Regions from separate parts of the Homo sapiens genome. Here region 2 is linked to region 1. Evidence: fine-mapped QTL for protein levels in blood plasma. Region 1 holds a variant in brackets. A gene starts in the other region. All regions are shown on their forward strands.

Region 1 (2,911 bases):
TTAACCTACTCAGGGTTCAGACTGGTCCTCCAGCCAACCTGCCTTCCAGCTGCAGATCATCGGGGTTTTCTTAAATGCTGCCAAGGAAGTGCTCTGGCTTTCACAGTTTGCCTGAAACCAGTGATGAGTCATCCTGCGCCTCTGCCTCTCTCTCTTCAACACTCAGTAGCCTCAGCCTCAGCCACCCAAGCCCACAGGCCTTCTGGTTATCATTTCATCAGCCGGCCACCTGCTTCCTCTCCAATTTTTCATTAGGGCCTGCAACTCACAACCACGTCCAGTGTCAGCTGCCTGAAAGTCTTCCTAGAAACAGAGTCTGAGATGGAAATTGCATGCAGAGTGCTGATCAGAGGGTGTTCTCGGGAGATTCTCCTGTAAAGAAGTGAGAAAGGCAGGATGCTGCAGAAGCTGAAGCTGGCTGCAACGAGGCTACACTTGGAGCCACCCCCAGCCAATCCTAAGTGGCGCTCTCGAGCTGGGACGGCCCATCAGAGTTGTCCCAAGTTGAGGCAAGAGGGCCGAGCCTTTGCGTTCCTTCCTCGGTCAGTTTCAGAACCTGGGGGATATGACCTGAAAAGAGGCCATTCCCTGCAGCAGGAGGGGGCATCCAGTGCGGGCTCTGCCATGGCCATCATCAACTGTCACTGCAGCTAGCGGGGAGACCTGGGCAGAGCACCCCAATGGTCACTGCAGCCGAAAGAGGACTGCTTGTCTTTCTGCTCTCACACCCCTTACCTAGGGAAGAGCAGAGAAAGGGTTGCTTGAATGGGAGGAATAGCAAAGAGAACAAAGAAATCCCAATGAGGGGAAACCTCTCAGCGCACCAGCCTCACTGTGTGCTGAGAGGCACCCACTGCCTTCCCTGCACTCCTTAGATCTTGTTCATGGGTGGTTGTTTGTTGTTGTTGTTGTTGTTGTTGTTGTTGCTGTTTTTAATGTAAGAAACAGAATCTTGCTGTGTTGACCAGGCTGGTCTCAAACTCCTGGCCTCAAGCGATCCTCCCCCCTCAGCCTCCCAAAGCACTGTGATTACAGGCGTGAGCCACTGCATCCAGTCTCATTCATCTTTTTGTACCATATTCTCTGTCCCACCACTCAGAAATATCTCAGGTGCTGTACTAGTGCCTTACACATCCTGGACCCTCAGTGCTGTCTCAAACTCCTGGCCTCAAGCAATACTCCCCACTCAGCCTCCCAAAGCACTGTGATTACAGGCGTGAGCCACTGCATCCAGCCTCATTCATCTTTTTGTACCACATTCTCTGCCCCACCACTCAAAAATATCTCAGGTGCTGTGCTAGTGCCTTACACATCCTGGACCCTCAATGCATAGCATGGTAGCACCAAAAGGTGTGAAATACAGAAATGAAATCATTAAGTGAGTCATTCATACCCATCATGGTTATTTATACGGTAATTTATATGGTCAAGCTTGACCGTCTTGGAGGGCTGCTGTCATCACAAAGCAGAACAAGGCCCACCAGGACACCCTGACCTCGTGCAGTGAGCCGGCCCTCAGGCTTGCACAACAACAACCCCCAAACACTGGCATGTTCCCAGCTGAGCCAACATGCACCAGACCCACCCAAACGTGGCCACATCGGAGCCATCTAGAAACCGATTTGAACACTGCTTCTTGTGGTGAGGGACAGGAAACCAAGAGGACACAGGGGGC[C/G]GTGTCGAGGTTAACAGGGAGGGCTGCAAGCCCAGATCTCTGGTTTCTGTTCCTCTCCAGCGTTCATCCTCTCCTACTGTTGTTAAAAATCAAATGTAAGATGCAGAGAGCCAGTCCAGGCTGTCCAGAGGACAGGGCTGAGCCTCGCTCCCCACTCCATTCCCAGGGCCTAGCACAGGGCCTGGCACAGAGGCCATATCACAAGTCAAGAAGGAAATCTTTCCTTTCTGCCAACCCTGGATCTTCCCAGAGAGGAGCCCTGTGTCCTCTTGAGGGCAGGATGGGTGGTCAAGGCAGGGACGCGGTAAAAACTAAGGTCGTACACCAGCAAGCTATCGACAAGCATTTAGAAAGCTGTGTCTCAACCAAGATAGTTATTGCAGCTTTATTTGTGTTATCAATAGTCAAAAAAAGGGGGGGGGGAAGACAACTTACTCTGAGCCCTAGGGTGCCTTGTCATAGGAGGTTCTGGGGGTAGGTACACAGTTACTATTTATCCCATGAATAAAAGGGTGGATGGAAATAGGCCAGGAGTTGGGGAACTTCACACAACAAAATCCAAACTGAATGATGGTGAGCCAAAACACAAAAATAACACAAAAGACCCCAAATTGTTACTGTATTTAGAAATAAGACCCAAATTATTATAAAAAATTGTCAGATTGCTACAAGGCAATTTTTTGGGTGCTATAAAAGGCCTCTGGCCCAGGGGCCTAACAGCCTCCTAAAAGAGGATATCAGGAAAAGCAAGTCGCTAAATAGAAGAAAATAAAAGAAAAGGAACTCGTCAGTCAAACTGCATCCTGCCTAGCAGGGAATCCACACACTCAGGGAATCTCAGATCCCAGGACTTCAGACTGAGATGGACTCGGTGTCTCTGGCCAATGAGAACCAAAGTCCTTCACACATCATGCTCCCTGAGACAAGAAAACGTAGGTATGCTTTAGGGGAAGAACAAAAACAGACAAGGGCAGTGGGAGTTTTGATTAGCATAATCTTTACAAATCCTTGCTTTGGAATTCCAGCTTGGCCACCTACTACATCATTTGGGCAAGTTTCTTAACCTCCCAGAACCTCAGTGTCCTCATCTGTAAAATGGCAATTATGAGAACGCTACCTACTTCATCACAGTGGCGTAAAGACTTACTAAGATAATTCCCGTTAAGTGCTTAGCACGTCGCCCTCCAAGCAGTCTGTTATTTTTCTGATGTGTCAATGTCACCATTCACCTGCTGT
Region 2 (2,911 bases), not on the chromosome of region 1:
GAGCTGGATGGTTCTCTCCATGGTCACACCGGCTCCAGGGAACGTCACCTGACAGGTGAGGTTGGTGCTGTGGTCCTGGGGCCGTGGGGTGATTGTGAGCACCGAGGACTGGGTGGTCCTGGGGCCCAGGGAGGTGGGGGCAGCTGACATCCAGGAGAAGATGGGGGGCGTCCCCTGCTCACAGACCCAGGGCACAGAGCAGGTCAGATTGCTGGGATGGCCAGACTCCAGGGTCCCTGGGATGGAGATGTTGGGCCTGTGGGTCAGGGCTGGTGAGGAGATGGGGACGCAGGATCAGGATGGAGGTCTGAGGTTTCACCCAGGGGGAAGCCCAGTCTCTGGTCCAGCTCCTTCTCTGAGCCCAACATGCTTAATTGTACCCGCCTCCCAAGACGGGGCTCCCGTCCCAGCCCTGCCCTACGGCCCCCATGACCTTCCCCTGTGGCTAGTCCTGGAGCTGGTTCCTTACCCATCACACGCACAGAGAGCTTGGAAGATGTATAACCGTATTTCATCCATTTGGACTTCAACCGAAAGAAGTATGCAGCATTGTCCCTCCTCCGGGCATCTCTGATGCTCAGGGAGCAGTTCTTCCTTCTGGGATCCCAGAGGAGGTGGAATCGGCCCCGGGTCTCCTCCTGCACTTCTTCGTCTGGGTCGTTTGTGGCCACTGGAACATCAGCCCCTTCCAGGAACCAGTAGCCATAACCATAGTACGAGGCTGGAAGGGTAGTGGGCAATCTGCAGGGTACGAGGACGCACAGACCCTCCTGCACCGTCAGTGACTCTGGCCCCTCCAGCTGGAATCTCCGCTCCTGAGCCAGGGCCCCTATGGAGACATGAGGGTCAGCTCGGCCCAGCCCCACGGCACCTCTCCCCTGGCCCACTCACCTGCCCACAGCAGGGGCAGCAGCAGCGGTAGCATCTCTGAGGCGGAGGCTTCCTGGGCTCCCTGCATGAGCAGAGAAGGGGAAGGGAGTGGAGGGGAAGGACTGCGGGGAGGAACGGGTGGCTGGGGAGGAGCGCGTGATCTCGGCTGTTCACAGAAGAGGAACTGCGAAGCCACAAGCCCTCGGAGCTCCACTCCCTCTGCACAGAGCAGACGGAAACTTTGAGACCCAGAGACCTGCCCAAAGAAGAGCAGAGGAGAAGAGACTGTGTCCCGCCTCCCACCTCGGGGCTTCCTGTGAGCAACAGAGCCCGGACCAGGGCCTCCCGGGGCATCTGAGGAATGCGAAACCTGTGTCCAAGGCCCTGCCCACCTGAGGTGCTTTTCTGTGCACCACTGTTTACACCTGGGAGCTGGTCACTCCTGGCCCCAGAGAGTCACAGCCTCATCCCACGCCATGAGAAAGTCAGTCCTGCAGGATATAGGATTCTGTAGGGTCTGTGGGAGTGTCTGGGACAGTGAAAGGAAGAAGGGTCCCAGGTGCAGTGTGGGTGATAGCCACTCATTCATTCACTCATTCATTCATTCATTCATTCATTCACCAAAGACATAGTGAGCATCTGTATGTAGGTCGGGCTGGAGAAGAGATGCCAGGGACCTGGTCCCTACCCTTGAGATGATCCCCATCCATAGCTTCCCATCCTCAGCACACACCCTCACTATCTAGCTTTAGAGCTGTGGACACTGGTGAGTTTGCCAAGTGACACAGTAGAATGCCAGATATTTTTTAAAACATGAGTATGGAGGTTTTTCCTTGACAGCTAGTACGCTGATTTACAAAATTTCAATGACATCTCCAAAATAAGAACCATGCAACATCTTCATGTAAATCAAAAAGGACACATATTTTATGAACTGCAGTGCAGAAGAAACTTCTTTTGAATTAATGTTGCCACTCAGTGCAGTGTGGACTGGAGAGATTTTTTTTTAGGTCCTCATCATAGAGATTAGCAATTTCTTTCCTGTGAAAAATCTGCTTCTCACAGTTAAATGTGGCACAAAAGACATATTTCTGGACAACGTGAGCAGAATATCCTGACAAAATTAAAATTTTTAGGTCTAGCTCACATGGTTTTCTATTTTCCTCTGTGCAGTATGCATCTGGCAAATCTCTAATACCTATGAGGTATTAGAATTTGCCACCATATATTTGTAAATTTTTTTATTTCTACAAACTTAAGGAGTAGATGTAAAATTTTTTTGCATGTATATAATGCGTAATGATTATGTCAGGATATTTAGAGTGTCCGTCACGTGAGTGCAATACATTCTTGTTAACTAAAATCACACTATTCTGCTCTCTAACGCTGAATTTATTCCTTTTAACTGTATGTTTGTAGCACTTCACTCACTTCTCTTCATCTTCTGTCCTCCCCCATCTGACCCTTTCCAGTCTCTGTTGTCTATCTTTCTACTGTCCACCTCCATGTGATAATATTTTTTTAGCTCCCACATGTAAGTGAGAACATGCAACATTTGTCTTTTTGTGTCTGACTTATTTCAATTTAGATAATGAATTCTAGTCCCATCCATGTTGCTGCAAATGACACGATTTCATTCTTTTTTATGGCCAAATAGCATGTATACTATATTTTCTTTATCCATTCATCTGTTAATTGACACTTAGGTTGGTTCCATATCTCTGATATTGTGAATAGTGCAGCAAAAATCATGTGAATGCAGGTATCTCTTTGATGTATTTCTTTCTTTCCCTTCGGGTAGATACCCAGTAGTGGGATTGCTTGAGTGATCGAATAGTAATTCTATTTTTAGTTCCTGAGAAATGTCCATAGTGTTTTCAAAAGTGGCTGTACTAGTTTAAATTCCCACCAACAGTACAGAAGAGTTATCTTTCTCCTCATCCTTGCCAAAATCTGTTATTTTTTGTTTTTTTAGTAATAGTCATTCTGACTGGGTAAGACGGTATCTCATTTTGGTTTAGATGTGCACTTCTCTGATGAT

Alleles and levels. Alleles are on the strand shown, and positions count from the first base shown. The strength of an association depends on the size of the effect and on how common the allele is.
With allele C in place of G in region 1, the plasma level of the protein whose gene starts at base 980 in region 2 is higher (moderate association).

The links. PIP is the posterior inclusion probability: the model's chance that the variant is causal. Protein levels are from antibody-based Olink assays in UK Biobank. Linkage for the fine-mapping came from a reference panel and not from the study's own genotypes, which makes the PIPs less certain.
Region 2: SIGLEC6 starts here. The variant in region 1 is fine-mapped to the plasma level of the SIGLEC6 protein (UK Biobank, PIP above 0.99).

Annotation. Positions count from the first base shown.
Region 1 is chr2:8,302,054-8,304,964 of GRCh38, forward strand. The region is part of intron 2 of LINC00299 (long intergenic non-protein coding RNA 299); the gene reads right to left. Among named protein-coding and RNA genes, the nearest start is that of LINC00299, 25 kb to the right of the region's middle. RefSeq lists enhancers at 279-338, 1,825-2,044. The variant C/G (reference allele first, on the strand shown) is at 1,676.
Region 2 is chr19:51,530,691-51,533,601 of GRCh38, forward strand. It overlaps SIGLEC6 (sialic acid binding Ig like lectin 6), which reads right to left and starts at 980. Exons shown (of 8, transcript NM_001245.7): 1 at 892-980; 2 at 470-829; 3 at 1-269. The coding sequence starts at 958.